Linked DNA regions of Homo sapiens: region 2 is linked to region 1. Evidence: fine-mapped expression QTL. A gene starts in region 1. The other region holds a variant in brackets. All regions are shown on one strand. Distances are between the middles of the regions.

Region 1 (12,160 bases):
CTGCTCTGAAGGGCCCTCCGTGCTCTGAGTGATGCATATTTAGTAATGAGTACAGCATCCATTTCTGGAAGAAGTTAGGCCAGCCAAAAAGAAAGCAGGCTGTGGGCAAACCAGACTACCTAGGAAAAGATGATCAAATGTGCCCCAGTCTACTTTATGGTGGCCTCAGGTTACAGGTGAACGATTCAAGCCTCAGTTGCCTCATGTGCAAATCGAGGATGTAACATATATGTGCTGATTACCACGAGTTGGGTCCTATTACAAGTGCTTTGCATTTCTTTTTTTTTCTTTTTCCTTTTTTTTTTTTTTTTTTTGAGAGATGGGATCTCACTATATTGCCCAGGCTGGTCTCGAACTCCTGGGCTCAAGAGATCCTCTCTCCTTGGCCTCCCAAAGCGCTGGGATGACAGGTGTGAGCCACTGCACCCAGCCTGCATCTCTTGTTTAATCCTCACGACCACTCCATGAGGTCATATTCTTATTCTCACTGGACAGATGAGGAGGTGGAGGCGCAGAGAGATTGGGTAACTTGCCCAAGATCACACAGCTGATGGGATGACTCAAACTCAGGCACTCTGCTCTACAGCGCACAGCTCCTTGAGCACTTGAGAGGGATTGAATGAGAGAGTGCAGTGCCCCTGAGCCCCTTCCAGAAGCACCTGGGGACTGCGCACATCAGATCCAAGCCTCCAGCTGCAGCCTGACCTCCTCAGGGGCCCCCTAAGTCCAGGTCTTCCACACCAGAGCCACCACGGGCCTTGTGTGTATGTCGATGTGGAGCGACGGCAAGGACAGATACAGAAGCGGAAGGAGGAGAGTGACAGTGAGAGCCAGCAAGTCAGTGACCAGAGAGACAGATGGTGAGACGGTGACAAAAACACAGAGGCGGCAAGAGACTGGAATTGGGTGACAGAAAAGTCAGAGAGAGTGTGCGTGTGTGTACGTGTGTGTGTGTAAACATATGCGTGCCCCAGCACTGACACACACGGGCTTCCCATGCTCCTCAGGGGTGCAAGCATCATCGTTTGATCGGAGGCAGCAGCCTCCCCCTGCGCCCTTTCCCCCACCCTCTGCTTCAGTCCATCTGTCTCCCTGGCTGGGGCCTCTCCTTGCTCCCTCCCCCTGAGCAGCCTGGCCCTCTCACCCTGACCTCTCTCCTCCATCTTTCCTGCCTTACCCCCTGCCCCTTTCTCATCCTCCCTCTGCTTCATGGAGTCATTCATTCATCTAACGGATGTGTCTGATTTGTGCCAGGTACTCTTCTGGGTGCTGCTGGCGATGTGGTGGTGAAGAAGACAGGCGAGGAGGGCCTGCCTCCAGGGAGCTGGCATTCCAGTGGGGGAGGCAGACAATGGGAGGTGAACAAGACCATTTCAGATTGTGCTGAATAGCAGGAGGGAGATAAGCAGAAAGATGGAATTGAGAGACATGGGAATTGGGGGGGATTGTGGAAGGATTTCTACAGGACAGTTAGCAGGGCTTTTCTGGGGAGGTGACATCTGAGCTAGGTCCTGAAGGAGCCAACTGTGCCACAGTGCTGGGGAAACAGAATTCAGGGCAGAGGGAACAGCATGCTGGGCAGAGGGAACAGCATGCGCGAAGGTCCTTGGACAGGGGTAAACTTGTGTGTTTGGATAGCAGAAAGAAGCCCAGTGCCAGCCGAGCGCGGTGGCTCATGCCTGGAATACCAGCACTTTGGGAGGGCGTGGCGGGAGGATCATTTGAGGCCAGGAGTTCAAGACCAGTCTGGTCAACATAGACCCCATCTCTACAAAAGCAAAAAGAATTAGCCAGGCATGGTGGTGCGCATCTGTAATCCCAGCTACTCGAGAGGCTGTGGCAGGAGGATCCCTGGAGACCAGGAGGTCAAGGCTGCAGTGAGCTGTGATTGCACCGCTGCACTCCAGCCTAGGTGACAGAGGAAGACCATGTCTCTAAAAACATTTTTTTAAATATAAATAAAGGCAGCCCAGAGCAGCTGGAGGATATGGATCCATCACCCAGGGTTCGTTGGTCTCTGCACCCTGTGATTTCAGGGCTGCGTTTCTAAAGCACCTACTGTGCCTGCCTCATACCTGAGGGCCTTTGGGGCACGGGGCGGTCCCTCAGCAGCCTTCATCCTGTCCAGCCTCAGATTCAGGCTCCTGCAGTGCAGGCCCCACCTTCCTCCCAGGGTGTCTCCGCACTTCTCCCACCCGACTCCACAGCTGCGTCTCAGACCTCAGCCCTCCCTGTGCCCCTCCTGTCTTCTCCCATAACCCACCTTCCTCTCCACCTCACTCACTCTGCTCTTTCCTCTGGAGCCCCACTCTGGCTTCACTCCTTAGACCCTGGGACACCTATTTAGCTGATTAACTCCTTTTCACAGCCTCCACAACCAGCCTAGCACCAACCAAGGTTGCCTGGTAAACTGGACGCAGAAAACCCTGGTTCAAGCCCACCTCAACCATTAAAAGCTATCTGACCTTGGACAAGTCAGGTTTTTTTTACCCCCTCTGGCCCTCAATGTACTCCAAAATAAAATAGGGGCCATGTCCTGCCCATCGCAGGGGGCTTGTGTGGTGTTGAAGAGAAATAAACAAGCCATCTGCTGGGTAACAGACACACAGCACTGCTGGGCGCCAGGCCCCCTCCTAGGCACCTGATGCATATTAACTACTTCCAGTCCTCAGGACAACCCTGTGAAACAGGCACTCTTACTTCTCCCAACTCATACGCGAAGAAATTGAGGACCAGAGAGGTTAAGCAACTTGCCCAAGGTCTCACAGGAAGTAGCAAAATTAGAATTTGAACCCAGACAGTCTGGCTCCCGAAACCACTGTGTGACAAACGGACTTGAGAACCCCTTGGGAATGCCAAGGTACTGTTGGAAAGACAATCAGTCCCCTGGGCTAATGTCCCCTCCCACCACCGCCCCTGCCTCATCCCTCCCAGTGTCTCAGAGACCCCGTTTCCAGGTCCCCCACACCCTGCCAGGTGTCTCCTGCATCCCAGGCTCCTTGCTTTCAACTGTAGCAGGGAGACCCTTACGCTACCTGAATCTGTCAGCTTTTCCCACCCCGCCCGCCCCCTCTTGAATCTCCAGTTTCCCTGAGCTGTGACTAATACCAAAGCCACCACATCCACTCAGCCCCTTCACCCTTCCACACCACCTCCGGCAGCCACAGCCAACAGGATTCCTTACCTCTGAGCAGGGGCCCCTGACTCATTCATGAGGCCTCCCCCTCCCCTGCCTCCCCCTTACCCCGCTTAGCCTTTTCCCTCCCTCTTTCTCGAATTGTACCCCAATTCCACACCACCTGATCCCAACCCACTTCCATTTCCCTGGGTTTTGGAGTCATGGAATAGTCCTGGTAGCAGGGGAACTGGGTTCAAGTCCGGATCCCTCACCTGCTAGCTGTGTGACCTTTGGAAAGTTATTCAACCACTCTGGGCCTCAGTTTCCCCAACTCTAAAATGAAAGAGCCTCCCCGTCCACTTGCCAGGAGGTCAGTGGGGCTCTAATGACATCACGGATGAAAGCCTGCTCTGCAAACTGAGGAGGGGAATTGACAGCACCGATGCTGAAGCCGGCCTGCCTGGGTTTGAATCCTGCCTTTACCAGCTGTGTGACTTTGGTCTAATTACTTAACCTCTCTGAGCTTAGTGTCCTTATCTATAAAATGAGATAACATATATCTATATATCTAAAAAGATATTTATATATCTATGAAATGAGATAACCAGTCTCATAGGATTGCTGTGAGGATCAAAATGAGTGAATATGCATAAAACACTTCAAACAATGTTTATTATTACTGTCACTTTCCTCATGCCTGAGTGTATATTCAGTAAAAATGTAATAAAGAAACCTTTAAAATTCCCTCCCTCAGCCACCAGCTCCTCCTTGCTTCCCATTTGGCAACCTGTCTGTCCCCAGAGACAGCGGTCACTTGCCTCCAAACACCTTCTTCTCGTCTGTCTGTAACCTGGGTCCCCACCCCCAAATCCAGGGGACAGCTCTTCACCCCCAGTGCTGAAACTTCTGTTTCAAAGGCCAGAAAAGCAGAGACCTGTGTCAACCTAGCAGACAGGAAACCCAGATTGCAGTCTGCCCCCCACCCACTTGCTTGGTGACCTTGGACAAGTCCCTTCCCACGCCTGAATCTCAGTTTCCTCATCTGTCAAGTGGGGTAATAACCCCTGGGGTAACAACCCACCAGTTCCCTGTAAAGGCTCAGTGCATTGGGCAGCTCAGCCGGGGCCGGTACCCTTATTAACATAACACCACCAGCCCAGCACAGTGCGGACTGTCAGTGCTGCCTCCTCGGGCCCCAGGTCATTTCTCCAAATACCCCAGCGTCCTCCCTGCCCCTGAAACCATTCTCATCGAACCCCACTCCCCAGTTCCTCCAGGTAGCAGCCTCCACTGCAGTCCTTCCCCTGTCCCCCCAAAACCAGGGACTGCCTGGCCAGACTCTTGGAGCCGGGCCTCTTCAGGCCTGCAGACCTGGGGCCTGCATCAGCCCTTGACTGCCCGGGGTGCCCCAGTTCCCCCAAGCAGAGCACGGCCCGTGTTCCATGGCCCTCTCCTCTGCATCCCCATCTCCCACCTCTGGGTCACCCTGTCTCAGGCCCTGGCCCTCTGGCTCTCTCCGGAGGCCACCTCTTCCCTCCCTGTCTCGGAGAGATGCCCCCTCCCTATAGGGAGTGACACACGCGTGTGCACACACACACACACTTCATTCACTGCCAGGTGCTGGCATCTCAGTCCCAACCTGTGTCCTTCCCCGTAGCATCCCCTGAATCTGGGTCCTGCTAGACTCTCAGCCTGGCCCAGTCACCGCCCCCATGCTTCTCTTTGGCAAACCTGCCCAGGGGATGACAGTCTCCTCCGGTTTCTCCTGATATCCACTCTCTCCCATCCCCAGACCAGACCCCGGGGCCCTCCTGGGAATGCGGGGTGTTCGAGGCCCCTGAGACCTCTCCTGCCCCCTTGTGTCTTCATGGCCTCCAACCCCTTCCAGGCACTGTCCCCAAAATGCAGGTTCACTGGAGAGACATCAGGCGCCTGAAGATACTGGGGTGCTCCGGCTACCAACCTCCGATCTCATCCTTCGCCCCCACGTCCCAGCACCTCCCCCACTCCATCCCCACGCGCTCCCCCAATATTGGGGTCCCGCCCCCCCATTCTCCCCACCCCCAAGCTCACACTCCGCAGCTCTTGAGTCCGATCCTTCATCCTGCGACGGCTCCTCCTCCTCCTCCTAGTCCTCCTGCCTCTGCTGCTGCTCCGGGTCTCCCGCCTCTGTGCCGGAGGCCGGGGTCTGGGGGCGCCGGGGGGCGCCGCGGCCGCTGCGGGGGGCCTGCGGGCGGGGGCGGGGCCGGGGGCGACTGGCCGAGGGCCGGGCAGGGGCAGGGGCCTGGGCCGGGCTCGGCTCTGCCGGGCTGCGGTGGCGATGCGGCTGCGGCACAGGGTAGGATGGAGGGATGCGGGAGCCGAGCGCGGGGGAGGGGGGCGGAGGGAGGTGAGGAGGAAGCGAGGGCGGGGGGAGCGGGAGCGCGCAAGGAGCAGGGGGCATGCGCAGCACCCGGGCCGGGGGCGCCTGGGGGTTGTAGTCACGGGCTTGGGGGACACCCGAGGAGGGGGCGGGAGAGGCCTGGAGGCGGGTGGGGGTGGGCAGAGCCCGAGGAGCAGGGAGAGATGCGGAGAGCCAAGCGGAGATGCTAGGGTGGCCCGGGGGGTGGGGTGGCCCGGCGGAAAGAGGGGGTGACGGAATGAATTCAGGGAATAACCTGGGAGCCAGGATGTGGATCCCTTTCCAGGAGACACAGATCGCGGCTGTGTTTTGTGTCTGGTGTCTGCGTGAGGCTGCGCGCCGACCACCTCTGGGTGCGAGCCCATGTGTGTTCTTGCAGGAGGCTCTTTGGACACTATAAATAGAAAGACCGACCCTCTGTGTGGTTTTTACGATGCAGGGAACCAGCCAGGTGCTTGCTGAGAAGGACACGGGGCTTGTGTTGCACAGCCTGGGCCTCTCCCGCCGCGGTGGGTCTCGGAGCTCTGCTTGTCTGCCTCCAGGGACAGGGTGCTCACTACCTCCCAGGACCTCTTGGCCCATCTGCAGATGGCTCTGACTGTTGAACATGAAATTTGTCCTTAGTGGGAGGGGAAATCAGGTGCCCCTGAGGGTCTGAGTGACCTCCTGTTCTGATGCCCACCTCTCCTCTCCCCATCCTTACACCACACCAGCTCCTCCCACCCCCTGCAATGGGGCGCCGGTCCCCAATGGGACAGGTCTTGACTCTCAATCGATCCTCCTGCCTCAGCCTCCCAAAGTGCTGGGATTCCATGCCTGGGCCACCGCACCCGGCATTCTCTTGCCAGGTACCCAGTGACCTCCTTGGTGCCAAATCTGTGTCTGATAAACCCTCATCCCACACCGCCAGTCGGGCCTTACCATCCCTGACCTCTCAGCAGCATGTGACCCTGATGAGCCCCTCTTCCTGAAACCCTCCTGTCTGTGGTGCTCCGCCCACCTACCCCCCAACCTGATCTGTGAGTGTTGTCTCCCAGCCTCTTTCCAGGTCCTTACCTTTTTTCCCACAGCCCTTCAACCTCAGGGTTCCCTGGGCTCCGTCCATTCTCTCTTTTTTTTTTTTTTTGAGTTAGGGTCTCATTCTGTTGCCCAGGCTAGAGTACAGTGGTGCAATCTCGGCTCACTGCAGCCTCAACGTCCCAGGCTCAAGTGATCCTCCCACCTCAGCCTCCTGAGTAGCTGGGACTACAGGCACGCGCCACCACACCTGGCTAATTTTATTTTTTGTAGAGACAGGGTCTCACTATGTTGTCCAGGCTGGTTTTGAACTCCTAGGGTCAAGCGATCCTCCTGCCTCAGCCTCCCAAAGTGCTGAGATTACAGGCCTGGGCCACCATGCCTGGCATTCTCTTCCTTCTTTACCTGCATCTTTCTGCACCTCCGTGTCTGCAGTGCCCACATCTGTACCTGCGAGCCAGATCCTCCCCCTGTAAGACAGCCCCTACTATATGCCTAAGCTCTGAGCTGGGCACCAAGAAGACAGAGATTGAAGATGCCACCAGAGCCATGAGTAGATCCATGACTACAGTGGGCATGGCTAGCGCTGACGTGGGGACCTCAAGGAGGTGGCTGTCCCCAAAGTGTTCCTTCCTGTGTTCTCCCTCAGAGATGGCGTCATCTCCATCCACCCAGCCACTCAAAGCACAGAAAGCTGTCCTTGCCTCCCCGCCATTATAATGCCAGCACGTTCTGGGCATCCAACGTGTTGCATTCACTATGCTGGTAGCTCCCAGAAACCTCCCAACCTCACAGTAGCCACTGCTAAGATCCCAAGTGTATAGACAAGGACACTGAGGCTTTGCATGGTCACATAACATATCCAAGTTCACAAGGTTAATAAAGGGCAGGGCTGGGGTCTTGTTTGCTTTTTTTTTTTTTTTTCCAGAGACAGGGTCTCACTCTGTTCCCCAGGCTGGAGTGCAGTGGTGCAATCACACCTCACAGCAGCCTTGACCTCCTGGGCTCAAGCAATCCTCCCATCTCAGCCTCCTGAGTAGCTGGGACTACAGGTGTACACCACTGTGTCCAGCTAATTTTCTTTCTTTCTTTCTTTCTTTTTTTGAGAGAGAGTCTCGCTCTGTCACCCAGGCTGGAGTGCAATGGCGCGATCTTGGCTCACTGCAATCTCCGCCTCCTGGGTTCAAGTGATTCTCCTGCCTCAACCTCCCAAGTAGCTGTGATTACAGGTGCCTGCCACCATGCCTGGCTAATTTTTATATTTTTAGTAGAGACAGGGTTTCGCCATGTTGGCCAGGCTGGTCTGGAACTCCTGACCTCAAATGATCCACCCGCCTTGGCTTCCCAAAGTGCTGGGACTGCAGGTGTGAGCCACTGTGCCTGGCCCTAATTTAACTTTCTTTTTTTCTTTTTTTTGCAGAGACGAGATTGGTCCTAGCCTCCTGGGCTCTCACCTCGGCTTCCCAAGTGCTGGTATTATAGGCATAAGCCACTGTGTCTGACCTTGTTTGTATCTTTTGATTGCAAAGCCCATTCTTCTTTTCTTCTTTCTTCTTCTTCTTCTTCTTCTTCTTCTTCTTCTTCTTCTTCTTCTTCTTCTTCTTCTTCTTCCTCTTCCTCTTCCTCTTCCTCTTCCTCTTCTTTCTTCTTCTTCTTCTTCTTCTTCTTCTTCTTCTTCTTTTCTTCTTCTTCTTCCTCTTCCTCTTCTTCCTCTTCCTCTTCTTCCTCTTCCTCTTCTTCCTCTTCCTCTTCTTCTTCTTCCTTCTCTTTCTTCTTTCTTTTTTCCTTCTCCTTCTCCTTCTTCTTCTTCTTCTTTTTTAAGAGATGGGGTCTTACTCTGTTGCCCAGCCTGGACTCAAACTCCTGGGCTCAGTCTTCCTACCTCATCCTCCTGAGTGGCTGGGACTACAGGGGCACACCACTGCACCTGGCTCACAACCCATTCTTGTAAAAGCATGCTCTTATAGCTCCTCTCTCAACTGTGACACCCAGAGCCGTCTCTAGGCCCTCTCCTGTCCCCACCACCTCAGGTCAGTCTAGGCCCTCACTGTCTTTCACCTGGGCCGTCAGCACAGCCTTCTCTCTCTGGTCTTCCCACTTGAACAAAGCCCCTTTCCTTTACATATGTCTTCCTCCCCAGTCCTTAATGTGATTGCCCCCAAAACAAATGTGACCTGCCGGGCGCAGTGGCTCATGCCTGTAATCCTAGCACTTTGGGAGGCTGAGGCAGGTGGATCACCTGAGGTGGGGAGTTCGAGACCAGCCTGACCAACGTGGAGAAACCCTGTCTCTACTAAATATATGAAATTAGCCAGGCGTAGTGGCACATGCCTGTAATCCCAGGCACTAGGGAGGCTGAGGCAGGAGAATTGCTTGAACCTGGGAGGCGGAGGTTGCAGTAAGCCGAGATCATGCCATTACACTCCAGCCTGGGCAATAAGAGCGAAACTCCATCTCAAAAATACATAAATAAATACATAAAAATAAAAAATAAAAATATAAAAATTAGCCAGGTGTGGTAGCATGTGCCTGTAATCCCAGCTACTCTGGGGGCTGAGGCAACAAGTATGGTTGAACCTGGGAGGCGGAGGTTGGAGTGAGCCAAGATCGTGCCACTGCACTCCAGCCTGGGAGACAGAGCAAGACTCTGTCTCAAAAACAAACAAACAAAAAAATCAGAATGAATAAATGGCATATTCCTGCACCCGTTTTACCCAGGCATAAAGAACAAAGCAAACTGTGAAGGCAGGGAGTTTTGTCTGTTGTGTGTTCACTGCTGGTTCTCCAGTGGCTCCACGGCACCTGGCACATGGTAGGCGCTCAGTAATTATGTGTTATAGGAATGAATGAGTGAATGGCGCACCACTCAAATCTGTCTGCAGCTCTAAAGATGGACACAGGCACACACATATGGCAATTCCTCTCACTGATCAGTGATTTCAAGCTCATTACATTCATGACCACTTATGGGCTACCCAAAGTGAGTCATCTGAATCATGAAGGAACTTCCTATGCAGTCTCCTACCCAGTGCCCCCCACCCTTTTTTTTTTTTTTTTTTTTTTGAGATGGCGCCTTGCTCTGTCACCCAGGCTGGAGTGCAGTGGCACAATCTCCACTCACTGCAACCTCCACCTCCCAGGTTCAAGCGATCCTCCCACTTCAGCCTCCCAAGTAGCTGGGACCACAGGCATGTGCCATCTCACCCATCTAATTTTTTTGTATTTTTTGTAGAGACAGGGTTTCACCATGTTGCCCACGCTGGTCTTGAACTCCTGACCTCAAGCAATCCACCTGCCTTGGCCTCCCAAAAGTGCTGGGATTACAGGTGTGAGCCACTGTGCCTGGCCAAATTTTTAAAGCATTGATATAACCAGGCCAGCCCCTGATCAGAAAATTTCCCTGGTTTCCCATTGCTTATGGGGTAAAGCCCCAATTTCCTAACCTGGCTTTCCACTTTAGGGCATGCCACCTATTCCCACGCACCTTCTACTCCTATCCCGTTATTCCCTGCATTTTTATATCTCCATGCCTTTCCTCGTGTCATTCTTGTCCCCTGGAACTCCCTTCCCTCTAACATCCCCAAGCCCACCTCCTGCTCTTCTATCAAAGTTCAACTACGGTGTCTTTCTTGGCCCTCCTGACGCTAGAGGGAAAGCATAGCCAAATCCAGGCTCAGCTGCTCACTGCCCAAATGCTAAACACGAGACGAGAGTTGGGGGCTGAGCACGGTGGCTCATGCCTGTAATCCCAGCACTTTAGGAAGCCAGGATGGGTGGATCACCTGAGGTCAGGAGTTCAAGACCAGCCTGGCCAACATGGCGAAACCGTCTCTACTAAAAATACAAAAATTAGATGGGCATGGTGGCTCACGTCTGTAATTCCAGCTACTCGGGGGTGCTGAGGCAAGAGAATCGCTTGAATCCGGGAGGTGGAGGTTGCAGTGAGCCGAGATCATGCCACTGCACTCCAGACTGGGCGACAGAATGAGACTCTGTCTCAAAAAAAAAAAAAAAAAAAAGAGTTGGTAGGAGGAAAGCAGGTTTATTCGGAGAGCCAGCAAACCGAGGAGATGGCAGACTAATGTCTGAAAGTCTCATCTCAAAATTTTCAGGCTGGCTGGGTTTTTTTGAGACAAGCTCTCACTCTGTTATCCAGGCTGGAGTACAGTGGCACAGTTATAGTTCACTGCAGCCTTGATCTCCCAGGCTCAAGCGATCCTCCCATGTCAGCCTCTGAAATAGCTGGAACTACAGGCACGTGCCACCAACCTGGCTCACTTTTTGATTTTTTTTGTAGAGATGGGGTCTTGCTATGTTCCCTAGGCTGGCCTGAAACTCCTGAGCTCAAGTGATGCCCCTACAACCAGCAGCCCCCCACTTCGGCCTCTCAAAGTGCTGGATTACAGGCATGAACCACCGCGCCCAGCCGGTGGGGGTTGGTTATGAGAGGGGGTGGTTATGAGAGGGGATATATGGAAGCTATGCACAGGTTGACTCGAGGTGGGTCAGTGTGTCTGGTCTCATTGACAGTCTTGAGCAGTGGGCCATCTGGTGGTCTGGCTGGCACTGGTTCGGGTGCAACAGGAATACAGGAGGCACTCAGCATTCTTCCCAGGGCTGGACATGCTGCAACCTTGATTCCCTGCTTAGTTTTTCAAGGCCACTTCCTGGAGTTCTTTATGCCAAGCACTAGTTAACCATTATTAAAAACCCAGCATAAAAGGAAAGGAGGGGAAAAATAAAAGCAAAAAAGAATAACTGATTTTCAAGATGGGGTGGTAGTTTCTGTCTCAAAAGCCTATTTTTTTTTTTTTCAAGACAGCGTCTCACTCCATCACCCAGGCTGGAGTGCAGTGGCGCCATCTTGGTTCACTGCAACTCCACCTCCTGGGTTCAAGTGATTCTCTTGCCTCAGCCTCCCCAGTAGCTGGGATTACAGGCACGCACCACCACGCCTGGCTAATTTTTTTTTTCTTTTTTTTGAGATGGAGTCTGGCTCTGTCGCCCAGGCTGGAGTGCAGTGGCACGATCTTGGCTGACTGCAACCTCTGCCTCCCAGGTTCAAGCGATTCTCCTGCCTCAGCCTCCTGAGTAGCTGGGATTACAGGAACGCACCACCATGCCTGGCTAATTTTTATTATTTATTTTATCTTATTTTATTTATTTTATTTTATTTTATTTTATTTTTTGAGACAGAGTTTCGCTCCTGTTGCCCAGGCTGGAGTGCAATGTCGCAATCTCGGCTCACTGCAATCTCCGCCTCCTGGGTTCAAGCGATTCTCTTGCCTCAGCCTCCCCAATAGCTGGGATTATTACAGGCATGCGCCACCATGCCTGGCTAATTTTTTTTTTTTTTTTTTTTGAGACGGAGTCTTGCTCTGTCGCCCAGGCTGGAGTGCAGTGGCGCGATCTTGGCTCACTGCAAGCTCCGCCTCCCGGGTTCACGCCATTCTCCTGCCTCAGCCTCCTGAGTAGCTGGGACTACAGGCGCCCGTCACCGCGCCCGGCTAATTTTTTTTGTATTTTTAGTAGAGACGGGGTTTCACCGTGGTCTCGAGCTCCTGACCTCGTGATCCACCCGCCTCGGCCTCCCAAAGTGCTAATTTTTTTTTCTTTTTTTTTTT
Region 2 (12,160 bases), 23 kb after region 1:
ACATTAGAGCTGCTAAAAGATTCAGAGTAACAATCATCGCCGTCATACAACAGCAGGAAGCACTGACATACTGACATTCCACACCAGGTGCTGTTCTGTTTGCTTTACAAATATCACTTCATCTTTACAGCAGTCCTATGAATATGGTGCTATTATTATTTGGATTTTTCTGTTTCTTTTTTTTGAGATGGAGTTTCGCTCTTGTTGCCCCCAGCGTACAATGGCGCAGTCTTGGCTCACTGCAACTTCCGCCTCCCAGGTTCAGGCGATTCTCCTGACTCAGCCTCTCAAGTAGCTGGGATTACAGGCATGTGCCACCACGCCCGGCTAATTTTGTATTTTTAGGAGAGACGGGGTTTCTCCATGTTGGTCAGGCTGGTCTCGAACCCCGGACTTCAGGTGATCTGCCAGCCTTGGTGAGGGCCGGGAACGGTGGCTCATGCCTATAATCCCAGCATTCTGGGAGGCCAAGGCGGGTGGATCACCTGAGGTCGGGAGTTTGAGACCAGCCTGACCAACATGGAGAAGCCCCATTTCTACTAAAAATATAAAATTAGCCGGCTTGGTGGTGGGCACCTGTAATCCCAGCTACTCGGGAAGCTGAGGCAGGAGAATCACCTGAACCCAGGATGTGGAGGCTGCGGTGAGCCAAAATCACACCACTGCATTCTAGCCTGGTGACCTGGAGAGACTCTGTCTCAAAAAACAACAACAACCAAAAAAACAAAAACAAAAACAAAAACAAAAAAAAATGAGAACTGAGGTATAGAAAGGTTATATAACTTGCCTCCTAGAGTTATTACAGTGGGTGAATGGGCTGGGATTCCAACCCAGGTCATCTGGCTCCCATGTGGATAGGTCTGGACCCACAGGTAGAGGGGACAAGACAAATTGCCAAGCCTCAGGACTGGGTAGAGCAAGACAGGATCAACAACCTCTCCAGTAGTTGGCTCCAACCTAGCAGGTGTGGGAGAGGACCTGTGACAGGGGCGGGAGAAGGCTTAGTGGGGCCGGCAGTCCACCCACTCCTCCCCCAAGACAGTCCAAAGCAATAGGTGACAGCAAGCCCCCAAGGGTGGGTGGAACACGGGAAGCCACCCCAGCTGGTATTTTCCTTGGATCATAGTGTAGAAGTTAAGAAACACACCCCACCCCCCAACAGCTGCACAGTCTGGAGCGAATATACACGCCCACCACCCACACACCCAAGACCCAATACACTTTTTTAAACTTTATTTTTACTTCTATTTATTTATTTTTAATTATTTTTTAAAAATCTAATTAGAGATGAGGTCTTAGGCTGGGCACAGTGGCTCATGCCTGTAACCCCAGCACTTCGGGAGGCCGAGGCAGGCAGATCACGAGGCGGGAGGATCACGAGGTCAGGAGTTCGAGACCAGCCTGGCCAATATGGTGAAACCCCATCTCTGCTAAAAATACAAAAATGAGCTGGGCGCGGTGGTGTGCACCTGTAATCTCAGCTACTTGGGAGGCTGAGGCAGAATTGTTTGAACTCAGGAGGCGGATGCTGCAGTGAGCTGAGATCGTGCCACTGCACTCCAGTCTGGGAGACAGAGCGAGACTACGTCTCAAAACAAACAAACAAACAAACAACAACAACAAAAACAGAGATAAGGTCTTGGCATGTTGCCCAGGCTGGTCTCAAGTCCTGGGCTCAAAGGATTCTCCTGCCTCAGCCTCCCAAAGTGCTAGGATTACAGGCGTGAACCACTGCACCCACCCTACTTTTTTTTTTTTTTTTTTTTATACAGGATCTCACTCTGTCACCCGGGCTGGAGTGCAGTGGCAAGATCACTGCTGACTGTACCCTTGACCTCAGGGACTCAAGTGATCCTCCTGCCTCAGCCTCCTGAGTAGCTGGGACTACAGGAGAGCGCCAGCACACCTGGGTAATTAAGATTTTTTTTGTAGAGACAGACGCTATGTTGCCCAGGCTGCTCTCGAACTCCTGGCTTCAAGTGATACACCCTTGGCCTCCTAAAGTGCTGGGATCACAGGCATGAGCCACTGCACCTAGCCTAATATAGTTAATATCCCCGTCAAGGCTGCTCAGAGGGCCTGAGAGGAACAAAGGGCTCAGCTCTGGAGAGCTCCACCCCCAGCGCCAATCTCTCTAAATGGCCTCTTTCCTCTCCATATTCCACCACAAGGCTTGGAGTCCAGCTTCCTGTGACCTTAAGTCACCATTCCAAAGCCCTGCGATCTCACCCAGAGACCACAAGTGAAATAATATTATAATCCTGAGAAGTTTAGTGGACCAAGATGGCATGCCATCAAGACGCTGAGAAACAAAGAGGAAGATGGGACCAGGGGGCCCAGAAGACGCTGGAACCCACAGTATTAAAAGCTCAGAGAGGCTGGGCACAGTGGCTCACACCTGTAATCCCAGCACTTTGGGAGGCCAAGGTGGGTGGATCACTTGAGCCCAGGGGTTTGAGAACAGCCTGGGCAACATGGCGAAACCCAGTCTCTACCAAAAAATATACAAAAATTAGCCAGGCATGGTGGTGCGTGCCTTAGTACCAGCTACTTGGGAGGCTGAGGCAGGAGGATTGACTGAACCTGAGAGCACACCACTGCACTCCAGCCTGGATGACAGAACCAGACCTGACCTCAAAGAGAAGAAAAAAAAAAAAAAAAAAAAGCCCAGAGGGGAGGGTACCCTCAACAGTTTTCCAGCCCCTTCCACATCCTTCCTAACCTCACTTGATAGTGTTCAAGTCCTACCTTAGGCAAGGCAGAAATTATAGGACCAAGCCGCCAAATGGGGAAATTGAGTCCCAGAGAGAAGTAATGCATTATTTAAGATCCCATGCAGGACTATGAGTCAGGGGTCCAAGAGCCCTTCCACCGTGTGCCACTCAGAGACACAGAGTAGGAGGGGGAAGGGGGTCGGGTGGCAGGGGACAAAAGATGCAGGAGGCAAGCAGCAGTGACTGAAGAGGCAGAGGCTGACATGAAAGACCCAGGAGCAGAGAATCTTTCCTTATCATCTCCAGGGGACACCACTGGGCAGGGCTTGGCCTCCGGAAAAACCCTGCATTCCCTCTGTGGGTTCATCAGGGCACCACTCTCCTACTAGCTGGGTTTTTTTTTTTTGTTTTGTTTTGTTTTTGAGACAGAGTCTTACTCTGTCACCTAGGCTGGAGTGCAATGGCGTGATCTCAGCTCACTGTAACCTCCACCTCCCATGTTCAAGCAATCCTCCTGTCTCAGCCTCCCAAGTAGCTGGGATTACAGGCACCTGCCATCATGCCTGGCTAATTTTTGTATGTTTGTAGAGACAGGGTTTCGCCATGTTGGCCAGGCTGGTCTCCAACTCCTGGCCTCAGGTGATCTGCCTGCCTCAGCCTCCCAAAGTGCTGGGATTACAGGCATGAGCCACCACACCCTGCCTGAGCTGGGTTTTAACAGGAAGAGGAGAAGAGCCAAAACTCCTCACATAGAATCACACAGCACTTGACAGTTTCCAACCTCATCATCACTGAAGTTTAGAGCAGCCGATACCCATAAAGATGATCTCCCCATCCCCCTACAGTTACCCACTGTGCAGAGGGAGATCCACACTTAGAGACAGGAAGCGATTTCCAGAAGTCCATAGCAACTCAGTCCCAGGAATCTAGGTTTCCTGACCAGGGCATAGCAGAAAGGGTCCATTCCTTTCCTTGCTTGTACCTTCACAGAAGCTTCCTGGACAGAGCCCTGGGGTCCAGGAGACCTGTTATTCATTCCCGGCTATGCTGAGACTTGCTGAGTGACCTTGGGGACTCCTTCTAGAGAATATAAGTTCCACGAGTGCAGGAATTTTTGTCTATTAGTCCTTGATGTATCTCCAGCCCTAGAACAGTGTTTGGCCCATACTATGTGCCCAAAAAATATCCATTAAATGACTGAATGTTGCTGTGCATGGTGGTGCATGCCTGTAATCCCAGCACTTTGGGAAGCTGAGGCAGAAGGATTGCTTAAGCCCAGGAGTTAGAGACCAGCTTGGACAACATAGTGAGACCGCATCTCGTAAAAATTTTTAAAAATAAAAAATGAGTGAATATCTAGATAGCCAGGATTAGAGAAGTGTCACAGTCAGAAAGCCTGAAGCCTAAAGAAGACCAAGGAACCAGGGGCTTTATCCTCAGATACATGAAAGCCTGAAATTCTGTCCACAAGTATTTATAGAGGGCCCGTAATGTTCTTGGTACTGGGCTAGGAACTCCCCAGATTCAGTTAAGAACAAAGTCATTACCTGGCCTCAGATGCAAGGCAGGGGCTGGGGGGTGTGAGTGGCAGGGAGGCAGCGTGATCAATACAAACACTTTTCTTAGCCTGAGCTGCCCTGACATGGTCTGACGGCTCACAAGGTGGTGAGTGCAGCCGGGCTGCAGTGTTCAAGGAGGGCGCCGGCTGGCCGCCCACCTGTCAGAGGCTGCGCCAGAAGGATGCGGAAGAAGAGATTTCTGCCTTGGCTGAGGTCACTTCCCACCCCCAGATTCCCTGCCCACACAACCCTGCAATTTTCTGACGCTGACGACTCGGATCCTATTATTTCCCGATTTTCAAGGTCCCATGATGCTGACAGCCCCAAATGCTAAGTCGTCAGTCCGCCCACGCCCTGGACCCGAAAGCAATAAAGGCGAGGTCAGCAAGGGTCCTACCACCCACTGCCTCGAAAGGCCTCTGGGGGTGGTCGGCGCGCCCCTCCCCACCTCGCGGGGGCCGTGTGGGCGTCGCTCGGTCGTTGGGGTGCCGGGGACGTCGTGATGAGAACGGCGTCCCAGAGACGGCGGTGACAGAGCCGGGACACGTGACAGTCACAGGGTCACATTCTGCGGTCCACGAGTTTGGGACCGGGCTGGTCACGTGACGCGGTGGGGGCACCATGGGGTGATGTGAGATGCGGGTGTCTCGGATTACGTACAAATG[A/G]CGTATTCCTACCCCTTTTGGCAACCAGATTTCCGTTGGAAGATGCAACGGTTCCGGTGACGGTAGCAAGTTCTCGCGTCCAGGCATCTCCGCTTCCGCTCGGGGCGCAACAACTTCCGACTCCACCTTCCCAGCCTCGGGCAAGGAAGAGACGCGACCATGTGCGCATGCCCCGAATTTATCACGGAGGGGCGGGGCTGAGGCTGCGGGAGCTGGAGCGGGGAAGAAAAGGGAATTCCAACCTGTGGAACCTTGGGGGGTCCCCGGGGTCGGCGCCTTCCCATTGACTGTGGGCGGTGCAAGGGACGGAGCCTCTGGCGGCTCGTGGGGGTGTTGGGGTCCGCAGGGGGAGGGAGGGGAGTGTCAGAGTGTGAGCGGGGTACGGGAATTCCAAATTTGAGGGCCTCCCGGCTCTGGCGCCGGGGAGGGAGAGCTCAGGCCGCCATGCGGGACAGGACCCACGAGCTGAGACAGGTGAGACGCCAGGGCAGCGGGGATGGGGACGGGCGGACGAACTGGAACGCAGGACTTCTGGTCTTCGGGATAGGGAGGGGTGGCTGATGGCCAGGAAGGAAAGTCCCGGAAGCCTGTGGGTCCTGCGGGGTAAGAGCCGCAGCGAAACGGTGGTGCCAATGACTCCGGGCCTGGCAGGGGGATGACAGCTCGGACGAAGAGGACAAGGAGCGGGTCGCGCTGGTGGTGCACCCGGGCACGGCACGGCTGGGGAGCCCGGACGAGGAGTTCTTCCACAAGGTAAGGGGCTGGGGTCTCCGCCTGGATTCGCGAGGGTGTAGGAGGACCCGAGGAGTAGCGTGGTCTGGAGTACCCCATATCTCTTTCAGCCCTCTCGGTCACCCTCCCCAGGTCCGGACAATTCGGCAGACTATTGTCAAACTGGGGAATAAAGTCCAGGAGTTGGAGAAACAGCAGGTCACCATCCTGGCCACGCCCCTTCCCGAGGAGAGTGAGTGAAACCCCGGCTGCAGGGCGCATGCTCCGCCCCAGGGATTGTGGGGGTTGTAGTTCCACGCAGGTGGTGGCCAGAGTGGTTTGTTGAGGTGGGGGCTGCTGTTTGGGAGTCTTGGCCTTCTCTTATTCAGGCATGAAGCAGGAGCTGCAGAACCTGCGCGATGAGATCAAACAGCTGGGGAGGGAGATCCGCCTGCAGCTGAAGGGTGAGCTCCTGGGACCTCAGACAGATCCTTCCCTCTGATCCTGCCCTGTTGTTGGTATATCTGGGGAGTGTGTGGCCCAGAGAAGCCAGTGATATATCCAGGTCACACAGCAGGCCTGGGTCTAGCATCTGTCTCCTGGCCTCCAGGCCATTGTACTCTCCACAGCACAAGTCCGCCTCTCAGGTTCTTTTATTTACAATGAAACCATTTACTTACACAGTTATCGCTGCCCACTGGGCATTCTTTGGGCAGGGAGATGGAGTTTTGTTAGGTGGCCTCTGCATACCTATGGGAACTCAGTGATGTAATGCAAAGAAAAATAAACTTACTTTCTCCTCTTAGAGGCTCAGCCTTAGTCATTTTATGATAAATTATATTTCCCTAAAAATCCTATGGAGACAAGTACCCCCAATACCCCTGTGTCTTCCCACAGCCATAGAGCCCCAGAAGGAGGAAGCTGATGAGAACTATAACTCCGTCAACACAAGAATGAGAAAAACCCAGGTGGGTTTTTTTTCTCAGAAATGAGGACATTTCAGCAAATGTTTCATGAAGTATTAGATGACAGGTGTATGAAGGAAGGGCCTGCAGAGATCATGGAGTCCAATTGGATGACTTTTCCAAATGGGGAAACTGAGCTCAGAGAGAGAAAGAACTTGCTCAAGGTCAGGAAGCCAGGTCTCCTGATGCTCAGTCCGGTTATAACACCCTGCTTTATTTTCTTCCATTCAATAGGAAGTTACTGTGACCCCAGACAAGACCTAGTCTTGGCTGTGGGACACATGTTTTCTTTTCTTTTTTTGCCTCAGCCTCCTGAATAGCTGGGATTACAGGCGGACACCCCCATGCCCAGCTAATTTTTGTAGTTTTAGTAGAGACTGGGCTTCACCATGTTGGCCAGGCTGGTTTCGAACTCCTGACCTCAGGTGACCCTCCTGCCTCGGCCTCCCAAAGTGCTGAATTACAGGCGTGAGCCACCATGCCCAGCTGGGACACATGTTTTCTGGGAGTCAAGATGAGGAGTTAGGGTTCAATAGGGGATAAAGACATTACTCACGTGGGACCTGGTGGCTAACGGCGCTGCCCAGGGAAGGAGAGTGAGAAGTCATAAATGACTGGCAGGTTTCCTATCTATGTGACAGGGACATCCTTAGTCCCACAGGTGGAATTCAAGAAGTCAGGAAGAGGAACTTCCTTGGGGCAACACTGAAGAGGAACTCCCCTGGTGTGATATCTTATTTTTTTAATTATTATTATTTTTTTGAGATGGAGTCTCACTCTGTCCCTCAGGCTGGAGTACAGTGGCACAATCTTGGCTCACTGCAACCTCCACCTCCTTCAAGCGATTCTCCTGCCTCAGCCTCACGAGTAGCTGGGATTACAGGTGTGCACCACCACACCTGGCTAATTTTTTATATTTTTGGTAGAAATGAGGTTTCACCTTGTTGGCCAGGCTGGTCTCGAACTCCTGATCTCAACTGATCCACCTGCTTTGGCCTCGCAAAGTGCTATGATTATAGGCATGAGCCACCGCGCGCGGCCCCTGGGGTGATATCTTAGTAAGGAGATTTGCAGTGATCTGACTGGCCCTCTCTGGGTCCCCAGTGAGGAGGATACCAGGAGGTCAGGGTTGGAGTAGTTGGGCCCAGGGCTCAGCAGGGACCCCAGATTGAAGATGGAGCAGCTTGGGCATCTTGGAAGGGTGAAGCTGGAACCAGGAAAGCAGATGTATCTCTGGAAAAGGAACTCCAAGGAATGAGCATATTTAAGGCCTCAGAAGAAGGGGCAAGGCAGAGCAGATGCCCCAGAACCAGTGTTTCTGGGGAAGCCTGTGGTGGTGATTGGCATGAGTGGTTGAGGGTCCATGTGGGCCTGTTGCACCTGTTTCGCCCAGGCAACATGTTCATCTCTAGGCGTAGGAGCTGTGGTGTAGGCAGCGAGGTTGGCATTCAGCAAGCATTCAGCAGTTACATATTGGGTGCCTACTGTGTGCCAGACCTTTTTGGAACTGTTTAGGATACAGCAGTGAACCAGTGATCCCTGTCCTCATGGAACTTCCCTTCTGGTGTAGACAATCACCATAATAAATAAGTGAATTATTTAGAACATAATAAGCATTAAGGAAAAAAGAGCAGGGGAAGAGGGACTAAGCATGCTGGAGGAGGTAGAGTTGCAGTTGAAAGCAGGTGGAGGAAGCTTCATTCAGAAGGTAACATCTGAACAAGAGACTTAAAGGTGTTTGCTGGGAATGAGCATTCTAGGTAGAAGGAAAAGTGAATGCAAAGGCTTAAGCTGAGAGTGTGCTTTGTCTAGGGAGGGGTAAGGAGACCAGTGTGGATGGGCAGAGGAAGGGAACAGTAAGAGGAAGTAAGATCAGAGAGGTCATGGGAGAAGGAGAGATCATAGAGGGCTAGCCAGGCACCGTGGCTCACGCCTGTAATCCCAGCACTTTGGAGGCTGAGGTGGGAGGATTGGTTGAGCCCAGGAGTTTGAGACCAGCCTGGGCAATATAGTGAGACCCCCCCCCCTTTTTTTTTTTTCCTTTGAGACAGGGTCTCACTCTGTTGCCCAGGCTGGAGTACAGTGGTGCCATCTCTGCTCACTGCAACCTCCGCCTCCTGGGTTCAAGCCATTCTCTTGCTTCAGCCTCCCAAGTAGCTGGGACTACAGGCGCCCACCACTGCACCAAGCTAATTTCTGTACTTTTAGTAGAGATGGGGTTTCACCACGTTGGCCAGGCTGGTCTTGACCTCCTGACCTCAGGTGATCCACCTGCCTCAGCCTCCCAAAGTGCTGGGATCACAGGCATGAGCCACCGTGCCCGGCCAACCCTGTCTCTATTAAAAATAAAAATAGGCCAGGTGCAGTGGCTCACGCCTGTAATGGAGGCCGAGGCAGGTGGATCACAAGGTCAAGAGATCAAGACCATCCTGGCCAACATGGTGAAACCCCATCTCTACTAAAAATACAAAAATTAGCCGTGCGTGGTGGCGCGTGCCTGTAGTCCCAGCTACTCGGGAGGCTGAGGCAAGAGAATTGCTTGAACCCGGGAGGCCAAGGTTGCAGTGAGCCGAGATTGTGCCACTGCACTCCAGCCTGGGCAACAAGAGTGAAACTCTGTCTCAAAAAACAAATAATAAATAAATAAATAAATAAATAAATAAATAAATAAATAAAAAAGATCATGGAGGACCACATAGGCCTGATAAGGGCTTTGGCTTTTAGTCTAAGAGAAATGGGGGAGCCTGTCAAGGTCATCACAAGGTGGTTAAGGTGGCAGATCCCGCATAAGAGCTCATGCTATTTGCTCACTGTACTATGGGGTTGCCGAGGCACCGACCGGGCAGGGATCCTCCCAGGGGCACTCAGCCTATATTCTTCATCTTTAGCATGGGGTCCTGTCCCAGCAATTCGTGGAGCTCATCAACAAGTGCAATTCAATGCAGTCCGAATACCGGGAGAAGAACGTGGAGCGGATTCGGAGGCAGCTGAAGATCAGTGAGTTGTGCATGCCCAGCCTGGCCCGCAGGGGCAGGTAATCCCAACCCAACCCTGAGCCTGGCCTTTTCCTTCACAGCCAATGCTGGGATGGTGTCTGATGAGGAGTTGGAGCAGATGCTGGACAGTGGGCAAAGCGAGGTGTTTGTGTCCAATGTGAGTGGCCACAGCCAGCCCCTCTCTGCTGTGCCTCCCATCCCCTCTGAGTCCTGTCCGTTTCTCGACCTCCTGGGCTCAGGTGATCCTCCTGCCTCAGCCTCCCGAGTAGCTGGGACTATAGGTGCAAGCCACTGCACCCCGCTTGCTGTGGCCCTTTCTGATTAAGGGCACCCTGAGGCCTCTAAGGGAATTAATTAGCCTGCCTGGAGTCACCCATCAGATTCCAGGCTGAGGGCTCCCCAGAAGCTCAACAGGAGTTTCTGACCTGCTGTCGGTCTCCCTGTGAACAGTTGCCCCACTCCTGTCCACCCCCCAGATCCTGAAGGACACGCAGGTGACTCGACAGGCCTTAAATGAGATCTCGGCCCGGCACAGTGAGATCCAGCAGCTTGAACGCAGTATTCGTGAGCTGCACGACATATTCACTTTTCTGGCTACCGAAGTGGAGATGCAGGTGGGTGCCCCGCGCAGCCCCAGACGTGAGACCAGGCTCAGTCCAAACTGCCAGCCTCCCGCCACCCTTAGATTCTCTCCCTGAGGCTTTTGTGTCTTCCAGGTTTGGCCATGCCCCCAGATTGGTGCTTATTCCTATCCTTAGCTGTACCCCGAGAATGGCACCTGCCTCTGCTGCTACACAGATGCCCACTCCCTTCTGCATAGCACCCTGCCCCCTCTCCAAAACTTGAGCCTGCCCAGGTCTGGCCCCAGCCCTCACTCCCCCTCCACTAACAGCATCCACCCTTATACCTCTCAGAGGTCCAGTCAGAGTTGCCCTAGAGGGGCTGCCTCCTAACATCTGTACAAGGCTGGGGTGGGGGCGGCGTTCCCCTGGCCCTGGTTGTGAGTTGAGTTGAGCTTCCAGCCCTGTCCTGGAGGAGCTGGCCTCAGTCATGCTACAGCCAATGCCCTTTTGCAGCTGAGACTTACAGGAAAGAGATCTCATTCAGTAGGAGTACTGAGACCTGAGGCTGGTGGTGCCAGGAGGAGGCAGGGATAGGGAGGGCTTTGCAGCAGCTGTAGATAGGCCTGGAAGAATGGGTAAATTCAGACAGATTTGTGAAGGCACAGTTCACCATCTGTGAAAGGTATGAGCCATTTGAGGCCCTTAGCTCCAAGCTACCACTGCAGATAGAGGTTGTATGGGATAAGTGAGCAGGGGACAAGGGACTACATGATAGAAGGGGCCTGGAAGCCATCCCCAAGGAGTCTGAACTTTTGTCAGATCAAGTCTTGCCCTTGTCTTTGTTAGTGCAATTTTTTTTTCCTGCCAGGAATGTTCTTCAGTCATCTGGGGTGGGGTGGGCAAAGGCATCCTTACCTCCCTGAACCACCCCATCCTCTGAGCAGGGGGAGATGATCAATCGGATTGAGAAGAACATCCTGAGCTCAGCGGACTACGTGGAACGTGGGCAGGAGCACGTCAAGACGGCCCTGGAGAACCAGAAGAAGGCGAGGAAGGTGAGCCTCCCAGGCCCGGCCACTGCCCCAGGCACCCTGTGTGACTTCCCTGACCCCCTCCTCTCCCACAGAAGAAAGTCTTGATTGCCATCTGTGTGTCCATCACCGTCGTCCTCCTAGCAGTCATCATTGGCGTCACAGTGGTTGGATAATGTCGCACATTGTTGGTGAGATGTTGTGGGCTGCCCCCTGGCCTGCCCCAGCCCTGGCCCCAGCCCTCCCTCCTCCCTCAGACCCTGTTCTCCCTCCTTTCCTTACAGGCACTAGGAGCACCAGGAACCCAGGGCCTGGCCTTCTCTCCCAGCAGCCTGGGGGGCAGGGCAGAGCCTCCAGTCGGACCCCTTCCTCACACTGGCCCCTATGCAGAAGGGCAGACAGTTCTTCTGGGGTTGGCAGCTGCTCATTCATGATGGCCTCCTCCTTCAGGCCTCAATGCCTGGGGGAGGCCTGCACTGTCCTGATTGGCCGGGACACACGGTTTTGTAAAAAATTAAAAAACAAAAAAAGAGCATAGAAAGCCCTGTGCACGTGTGTTCCTGGAAGGGCTGGCCCAAGGCTTCCGGGCATCCAACCTCCTTACCTCCTGGACGTCCCCAGGGCCAGGTCTGGCCCTGGCTGCTCAGGTCAAACTGCCAGGGGTGCTGTGCCCACAGCAGGCTGGTTCTGCCTTTCTGCACCCCCATAGGAATGGGTGGGCAGGGAGGGGTAACACCGGCATCTAGCTCCTGGCTCAGTACTGTCCCCGGGAAAGGACCACTGTGAGTATCTGTCTTGGAAATGATGAGGCTGACCAGGCCAGGCTGGGACGCAGGTGAGATGGGGGTTTGGGTGGCATCAGTGGGCCTTCTTGTGGCCCAGAGGAAGAGGCACCATGAAAAAATGCCTAATTGAGGCTGTCACTTTGGATGCAGTGGATAGGGATGGTCTGGTTT

Evidence for each region. PIP is the estimated chance that this variant, and not a neighbour inherited with it, causes the effect.
Region 2: its variant is fine-mapped to the expression of STX1B in tibial nerve (GTEx, PIP 0.94).

What each region holds. Positions count from the first base shown.
Region 1 is chr16:31,005,176-31,017,335 of GRCh38, forward strand. It overlaps STX1B (syntaxin 1B), which reads right to left and starts at 5,463. Exons shown (of 10, transcript NM_052874.5): 1 at 5,192-5,463. The coding sequence starts at 5,221. RefSeq lists an enhancer at 5,499-6,000.
Region 2 is chr16:31,028,424-31,040,583 of GRCh38, forward strand. It overlaps STX4 (syntaxin 4), which reads left to right and starts at 5,135. Exons shown (of 11, transcript NM_004604.5): 1 at 5,135-5,412; 2 at 5,590-5,691; 3 at 5,803-5,902; 4 at 6,039-6,113; 5 at 6,547-6,617; 6 at 9,503-9,611; 7 at 9,691-9,767; 8 at 10,087-10,224; 9 at 11,118-11,228; 10 at 11,300-11,395; 11 at 11,489-11,741. The coding sequence starts at 5,383. The coding sequence ends at 11,380. RefSeq lists enhancers at 4,459-4,970, 5,483-5,993. The variant A/G (reference allele first, on the strand shown) is at 4,939.